Linked DNA regions of Homo sapiens: region 1 is linked to region 2. The links come from fine-mapping of genetic effects on gene expression. A gene starts in region 2. The other region holds a variant in brackets. All regions are shown on one strand. Distances are between the middles of the regions.

Region 1 (4,397 bases), 39 kb after region 2:
CCAAGACTGGGATGAGGCCAGTGAGGCTCCCAAAGCACCACATTTAAGGAGGCTCTGTAAGCGTAATGCTGATTCTGTCCTTTCACAGCCCTGAAAATAAGTGCCTCCTTAAATTTGGCACCCCAGATGCCTCACTGACCTCACCCATGCAAAAAAACTCCTTCCACTTCTATCAGAAAAAAAAAAAAACTTCCCATGAACATCAATTCATGCAAAGAAACACAAATTAGCTTCTAATTGGAAATTCATTTGGAGTTACAAAGGCCATTTTGGTGGAAACATACATCTCCAGTGTTGTCGATCTGTATTTTTTTCTTTGTGATTCAGGCAAACTATTATGGACAGAATCTAAACATGGTCTGTTAATTAGCTGTCCCTAAATAAAACTGGCTAGGCATAAAACTTCAGCTCTCAGGTATCTGCATTTATTCACTCAAATAACAGGCCCGAGCCCAGAGCATACCGTCCATAGGGGGCAATAGTAGTACAGTTATGGTCCAAGGTAAGAACTATGGCATGTAAATCTTTTTCTCTTCCCCCAGGAATAATATTTGTTACTGCTTCCTGCTAAAGCCAAAACAAACATGCATATCATTTGCATTTTAGGCAAGATCAGAGGATAAGAAAAAGGTTGCCCAGATGGTAGAAGGTAAGTATTTCCGTTTCTTTTTGTTGTTGTTTTTTTGTTTTGAGGCAGAGTCTTGCTCTGTCGCCCAGGCTGGAGTGCAGTGGTGTGATCTCGGCTCACTGCAACCTCCACCTTCCCGGTTCAAGTGATTCTCCTGCCTCAGCCTCCTGAGTAGCTGGGATTACAGGTGCGTGCCATCACACCTGGCTAATTTTTATATTTTCACCATGTTGGTCAGCCTGGTCTCAAACTCCTGACCTCATGATCCACCCACCTTGGCCTCCCAAAGTGCTGGGGAGAGCTAGCCCCTAGAGCTAGCTCTAGGTGTGAGCCACTGCACCTGTCCTAATATTTTTTTTAAATGCAGAGATCTGCTGTCTCAGTTAGTGGGCATTTAAAAATACAGCCATTTAAAGTAGTTTGCGGTATACTACCAATACAAATTCCTGATAACCTGTGTTTTTTCACCAGTAACTATGCACAATAAAATAAAATCTAGGGATATAAATGTTGTTTTAAATCTTTAATTTTTATATCATATCCAGGCCCATGAATAATCCCAAAACATGTGTAAAATCAGAAGGAAGTATCGAAGTAGGAGAGGAAAAGCAGCACATTCACGTGGATGAAAGCCCAAAGAATCTCTTTGTCTGGGTCACTTTTGTATACTTCCTCTCCATGGCCCATCTCTTCCTTGCAATGTTCCCTCCCAGGTCCCTTCCCTGAGCCTCCTTAGGTTCTGTCCTGTCCCTGCAGAGCAGGGAGAATGGAAGCATGTGGCGTAGAAGTCTGCTGTGGCCTGAAGGGAAGAAAGTGGGCAACGGCAGCTCGAAGGAGATGGATCTGTTTCTCAGGACCACTAACAGAGTGCTGTGAGCTAGAAGGCTCACTGGGCACCATTAACATGGCACAGCCTACATGAATGAGAATGGGACCCAGAAGGGCTTTAGGGGCTAGCTCTCACAGCTGTTGCAATACTTCACTAATTGGAAGGGAAATATTCCTCTCCAGAAAAATGTCTGAGCAAGACCTCTAAGGCCTAAGGATTATGCTTGCTTGCTCCATCAGCTTTTCAGAGAGAAGCCTACAATTGATAATGATTACTGAAAGTGACTGTGGCTCACGCCATAAAATGCCTCTGTAATCGTCATCGCTTATTTGCCAATTAAGCGTAATTAAATTTAGTTCAGGTCACCTTCAAAAGCCAGAATCCACATAGACTGTTTCAGGATAACAATAGCATTGTCCAGTGTTCATTTTCCAGCTCGAGACCACATCTTTTTTCAGAATGCATGTGAACTGTTTCCAAAGAATCATAATTGTTGTGTAAGCTTTATTATCTCCATTGAATAGATAAGGAACTGGAGGCCCAAAGCTGTTAAGTACTTGCTTTGCCTCATGGGAGCATCAGATGGAGCACTGTAAAGCCTTGTGTTCACTTGATTCCTCCTACACTCCCAGCTCCAACTTGCAGGGATGAAATCATTTGAATTACAGAATGTTTGTTGCCCACTGGTTAGGTG[C/T]ATTTGTAAGTGCACTCAATTGTTTGCGGACCAACTCTTGGATGTCATAAAACCCTTGCAACTCAACTCATCTGAAGTTGTCACCTGCTCAGTGACACCTGTCTTCTCACAACACCTCCCTCTCCCTGCAGCCCGAATCCAGACCCAGGAAGAAAGCACCAAGAAGCTTCCAAACGACAGTGATCTTACCAGCCAGCTGTCCTCAGCGCACTCGGGCACACCCCAAAACAACGGCAACGTGGCCCATTTTGACTCAGGGAGCAGCAAGAGTGGCAGGATAGAGACAGTCGCACAGTCCATGCCCCAGAGCCCGAGGCCAGGGGACAGGGCTCCTAGCTCACCTCTCCCTGGGGTCCCCAAATCCAGGCTAGAGCATGAAACTAACAGGTGAGGCTCCACTGCAGCACAGATTAAAACCTGGAATGTGAGAGATTTGAAGGCCTCTGCAGCTTCAGGAGGCCAAGGCCATTAAATTCTAATTCTCCCAGAAGGCATGGGTCAGGAGACTATGACAGCTGGTACTAAAAAGAAATGGAGGCGGGGTGGGGGTGTCAAAGTTTATCAAACAGGACAAATTCTTCCTCCTAGGTTATCTGCCATTTAACTTGTAAGCAAACCTTCCAGCCAACCTAGGATAAACATTTGTCTAGGCTAAGAAAATAACTGTTTATTTTTTAGTTCCACAGTGGCCATATTATTGGCAAGATCTTCCATATTTTAGCCCTAGTCTGGTCAAGTTATTGGCAAGACCATTTATGCATTACATGGGGTCAAAGAAAGCAGTAGATCCCTTCCTACTTTAATGGAGGTAGGACCCCTGGAAAGATGAAGGGGATAGACCTGCGGTGGCCCAAACTCATATGGAGAATTATATTTGATCTGAATGTAGCACAGCGAAAGCAATATAGATAAAATACAGGGGCTCTCTTTTTTAAAGATAATGACTAAGTTAGCAAAGAACTTGAAGTCTTGTTATATAAGGAGTTGTCTGCCTGTCTCTGTGGGGTCTTGACAAGGAGAAAGGGTTCAAACACTCCTTGAGAGGCCCCTAGGGGTCAAACTACAGCCACCATACAGATTCAAGTCTTTATCAGGAAGAACTTTTTTTTTTTTTTGAGACTAGGGTTTTGCTCTTGTCACCCAGGCTGGAGTGCAGTGGTGCAATCTCGACCCACTGCAACCTCCACCTCCCAGGTTCAAGCAATTCTCCTGCCTCAGCCTCCCGAGTAGCTGGGATTACAGGCACCTGCCACCACACCCGGCTATTTTTTTGTATTTTCAATAGAGACCAGGTTTCACCATGTTGGCCAGGCTGGTCTCAAACTCCTGACCTTAAGTGATCCACCTGCCTTGGCCTCCCAAAGCGCTGGGATTACAAATGTGAACCACCGTACCTGGCCAGGGAAGAACTGTTTAATATGTACAACTCCCCTCCACCCACCAGTGGAAACTCAGAGAAGTGCTTGAGAAGTCAGACAGCTGCTTAGCAGAAAGGATGAGAAACTGTGTTCCTAACATGTGCTTCACAGACACTAGTCCCACTATGTGCCTCTTGACACAAAGAGGGCTCTGTGAGGAAATACACTAGCATAACACCCCTCGCTCTGCAGTCTTCATGGAGACTCATGTGTACATCACTGATTTAGGTTCTGAAAATTCCAGCAGTAAAGAAAACTGTTTAGCCCTGTCCCCCAAATGTCTCTGTGCACACAATCCATACCCATTAACCAGTTGGAACCAGCCTCAGTGAAAATGCTCAGAGAACTGCTCACAGCTCACAGTCCTCAGGTGTGGGGCTCTGAGACCACCAAGGCCACAGCTACTTAACCGCCCCTGTCTTACAGGTATCTGCACGGTCTGTGTGCAAGCACCAGTGACCTTCACAGGAACAGATCGCGCACACCTATGACATTTACAACGCACATCGAAGATGTACACTCAGAACCTCTTTTCCGAAAAGACTTTCAGCAAATCAACCCTCCTCACCGTGGACCACAGGCCTCGACTTTGCTGGCACAGGGTCCCAGGCCCCACGCCCCCAGATACTATGTCATTAATGAATGTGACTCTTACAAGAAAAAACATCTAAATGTCTGGCCAGAAAGACATTTCAAGATAGATGCTTCAGGTGACATTGTGGAGCTGTACCCCAGGAACGTGCGACAATATGCATCCCGGGTCCCCCGCCAGCCTCCCTCCCCACAGCTGAGTGAAGAAGAGGAGGAGACGCCAAGCAGAGATTGGAT
Region 2 (4,397 bases):
AATAAATCCCTGTGTACTGCAAAATTTGCTACCTTTCCTTACCTCCCCTTACAATATACATGTATATGTAACATCAAAAGGAAACAAAAACACTCAAAATACTTGAGTGAGATTAATATAAAATATTTTAAATTTTTGAGTAAATATTTCAAAATAAGGCAGGGGGGCTTTAGAAAAAGTAGGACGAAAAAAATCTTTGAAATGTTCAGGAATGATTGAGATAAGTAAAGATCTCTGAAAGAATGCAAAAAATCCCAGTGGGGCTAGCAGTAATTCTATTGTATAAGCCATTTGTCCATTTGATAAGCACACATTTTATCTAATGTTACCAGATAGAGCATCAGGCCAAATGGCCTCAAGCAAATTGGCAGACAGATGACCTGGTCCCAGAGGCTCCGGATCCATCTCTGACCCAAGGCCAGCTCTGGCACTCAGCCTTCCACTTCGTTCCCATGCTTTCAGCGCTAGGTCTGAACACTTGCCTGATGGTCCTGAACCCCTGGGCTAGGGCTCTTGCTTACATTTGCCAGTTCAGTGTGTGGTAAGATCTTTCCAATTATTTGCTAATGAATTAGTGGAGGATTGAATGGACAAATGAATGAAGTTTCTCTCCGAAGCCCCACATCTGAACTTGCTGATGGATTTTCTTTCTGCTCCGTTGTCTGGTGTCCACTTCAGTTATTTATTCACCCATTTATTGAGTCTTTAGTGTGCAGTGGGTAATGTTCAATAGAAAGAGTCATGTCTACTCCAGTCCTGCACCTTCCCATTCTGTTACTACAAAGGTGCAATTTACCTCACTGCAGTCAAACCATTTCTTGTGTTAAGTAGCAAATAGAGGTTTACACTGTGAAACCAGGCAAGTCTTGGACTTGGGAATGAGGTTCTTGGAACAGAATCCCAATGCATGGCTAACAGTGAGAGTCTGCAGGTGACAAAGGAACCGGGCTCCATTCTGCTGATGGCTGGGGAAGGGGAGGAGAAGCTGCTGACCTTTGCTGAAGGACTAGGATGAACTACTCATCCCATTTTACAGCAGGCAACCTATTTTCAGAACATTGAGGTGAGAGTCTAATCTCTATCAAAGTCTTCCTTTCTTACCAAATGCTATAGGAAGTCTCTTTATTTCTTTTAGCCTCAGTCTCAGAGTCATAGTGCTCATTAATGTGACCATGTATGGTAAAGGTAAAATGTAATAAGATGTTAATTTGATTATTATTAATATCATGCTGAAGTACTTGGGGTTGATGTATCATTATTTCTGCAATCTACTTTCAAATGGTGTGTGGTGGGGGAAGGATACAGACAGAAATAAAGCAATTGTGGCAAAATGTGGCAATTGGTAAATCTAGGTTAAGAGTGTACAGATATTCCTGGTACTGTTCCATCAGCATTTCTAAGGATTTGACTTTTTTCAAAATAGAAACTAAGTTGAGAAAAAACTAAATAAGAAAAAATAAAATGTGATGGCTGTGCCTCTCCTCAACTCCACTGTATGAACACAAGCAAGGTCCTTACTGTCTCTAAGCCTCTTCGTTGAGAGTAAAAAACTGGGGAAATTAAGCCTTGCCTTTTATACTCCCTCAGTGTTTTGTGAACACCAGTCATGGTCACAGATGTAAAGTGTTTTGCAAACCATCCAGGACTGTCAGGGCATAAGGGGTTAACGGATGTGATCATTTGTACAGCACCAAGCGATGTGTAGATCACCGGGCCAAACCCTTGGCTGTCTAGACTCCAGCCAATCTGTGTGCCTCAGCCACCTTAACATTACATATGCATGACTGGCCTCCTGGATTCTTCCCTGCTCAGAGCACCAGCTGCAAGCACACAGTCTTCTTCCTGAGAACTAGCGGGCAGAGCAAACTCCGCTGCTTCCATTCAGAAACCTCGGAACAGACCTTTGCCTGCCAACTTCCTAGCTCTCTGGCCAGCTTCTGATTGTTAGCAGTGGGTTAGCTCCCATGAAAACCTCGAAGGCATCCCAGCGCTATAGAGGCATCCGGAGAAATGCCAGCCAGTGCTACCTCTACCAGGAATCTCTGCTGCTCAGGTGAGCTGGCCCCATTCATCAGCTGGGCAGAGGAGTCAGGTGTGTGAGGAAGGAATGCATGGGTCACCAGAGCGAGGGACAAAGTCCCTGTCCTGCTCAGTTGTCCTTCAGAATGAACTCAGAAACTCACTTCTCCAGGTTGTGGTACAACTAGGATGGCAACCTCAGCAACGGGCATGGGGGGAAATGGTTCTTCTGGCTGCTTCTTGACCAGGAGGTCAGAATCCAAAAGCTTGCATCCCAACCTGGCTTTATGGCTGGCCAAACCCACAGATATGTTTCCCTGTTTTCTCTATGTTCACTCAATCAGCAATGTCAAGAGAGAGCAGATAATATGTCTATCATGATAAATAAAGTGTTTATTGGAAAAGCCTTCAGGCTAGTTAGAAGTGGATGAGAGTGCTATTCGAATTTGTTAAATATTTATAAAGGTCTAGTACAGCTGCCATTTAATTTGGTGAAATTGAAAAAAATTCTCCTCTAAATGAGTAAAAACAACATGAATTAGAGAATAACAAACGAAATCTTTTATTTCTAATAGTCATAGATGAATACTCTTAACTCCTCTCAAAATGTTGCATTAGGATAAGCATATTAAGTGTAACTGGGAGTAAATGTTGCTACATGTTGGAAAATTGTTCCTCTTGAGAGTATCTATTTCCTGAAATATCTCACCCATGTAAATTTGCTTAGCTAATCTTTCGCTCGTAGAAATTGCTTTGCCTGGCTCTGCCTCGGTTATCTCAGGCTTAAAATGAATTGACGTGAAAGGGTGAAGAGGGGTTTCTGAGTGGCAGAAGTTTTGATTTATGTTACCTTCAAGTAACATAAGGAGTCCTGCCTCTAAAATTAGCTGATTATTTCAATGAGCCTGAAAAAGAAATTATTTTGCCTACCCAAATTGCTGCTACTCAGGAATCCAAGAGTACGTAAATACCCTCTTGTCTCATCTTGTGTTTTCTGATAATATCATGCACCCTGAGAAATCATTATCTTCTAATGACCCAGTGGAAGTAATTGAATCCAATAAATGTGTTTCAACAGGCTACTGACACTGGCAAATTATCTGTTTCTGTGGGTCCCTCACTTTACACACACACACACACACACACACACACGCACAAACACATACACATTTCATACAGATGACCCTAGGGCAGTGAGATGCTGAACTTGTGCCCAGGGCAAGATGATCTTTGCTGGAAGCAATTCTTCTAATCAGATTTCCTCCTTAATGCCCTGATCATTCAGCAACTTGGATGACAGCTTTAGTGCTGATGAAACAGGGGACAGCAATGATCCGGAACAAATCTTCCAGAATATACAGTTCCAGAAAGATCTCATGGCAAACATTCGCTGCAGACCCTGGACTATGGGACAGAAGCTGAGGGCATTGAGGTAAGGGCCTCAATGGCCATTATTGATCATTACAAGCATGCTTTCCGATAAACCACCTTGCCTTGCCCATGGGAACGAGGATAAAGACTCATGTGAGAGAGATGGCTCAGTCACTCTTGACCTGAATTAGCAAAGTCACAAAGATATCTGAGAGGTCTAGCTGGTCCAGAAGCCAGTTCCTCTGTGTGTGTGTGTGTGTGTGTGTGTGTGTGTGTGTGTGTGTGTGTGTGTGTGTGTGTGTCAGAGAGACAGATACAGAGAAAGAGAGAGTATAAAGAGTTGTGTGTCTGTGTTGGGGGTGTGTGTGTTGGTGGAGAGTCTTTTATCTTCTACCTCCTTTCTAAACACTAGATTTTAATATTCTCTCCAAGCTCGTCTCGCTCACTAGAAACAGAGCAGTAAGCCAATATGAAAAGAGATACTCATTTTAGCTGCTTGGATATTACCACCCTCTGGGTAAAAAAATAATTAAAAAAAAAAAGACTTTATAGGAAGCCAGATTATTATGATACTTAGAGTCATATTAAATAGTCTGTCTATATAATAAAGTGCTAAAGATTTAAAAATAGATTCCCTGATTCAAATACTGCCTTTACCAATTTCTATCTATGTGATATTAATTTTCTTAATTTCTCTGAATACCAGTTCTTTTCTTTTTTAAAGTTGAAGCGATGGTGAGGAATAGCCCTTAACTTCCTGCAGCACGTTTCCAAAAATGTCAACCACTAAGCTCTCTGGATATTGTTAAAAATTCAAAATCCCTGATTGCTCTCAGACCTACTGAATCAAACCAAGGGAGAGGGTCCTTGTATTTTTAACATGCATTCAGGTTGATACTTTTGCACATTCAAGTTTGAGATCCACTGATAGCAGTTTGTTGAAGGATCAAATGGGATGAACCCTGTGAGTGCTTAGCATTGTATCTGGTATTTAACAGTCACTCACT

Evidence for each region. PIP is the estimated chance that this variant, and not a neighbour inherited with it, causes the effect. A credible set is the group of variants that fine-mapping cannot tell apart.
Region 1: its variant is the best candidate, but not a certain one, in a credible set for the expression of TMC3 in nasal epithelium (TOPMed, PIP 0.86).

What each region holds. Positions count from the first base shown.
Region 1 is chr15:81,332,861-81,337,257 of GRCh38, reverse strand. It overlaps TMC3 (transmembrane channel like 3), which reads left to right. Exons shown (of 22, transcript NM_001080532.3): 20 at 607-649; 21 at 2,283-2,538; 22 at 3,996-4,397. The region is part of intron 2 of TMC3-AS1 (TMC3 antisense RNA 1); the gene reads right to left. Among named protein-coding and RNA genes, the nearest start is that of TMC3-AS1, 11 kb to the right of the region's middle. The variant C/T (reference allele first, on the strand shown) is at 2,152.
Region 2 is chr15:81,371,645-81,376,041 of GRCh38, reverse strand. TMC3 (transmembrane channel like 3) reads left to right here and starts at 1,829. Exons shown (of 22, transcript NM_001080532.3): 1 at 1,829-2,053; 2 at 3,305-3,451. The coding sequence starts at 1,965. The region is part of intron 5 of TMC3-AS1 (TMC3 antisense RNA 1); the gene reads right to left.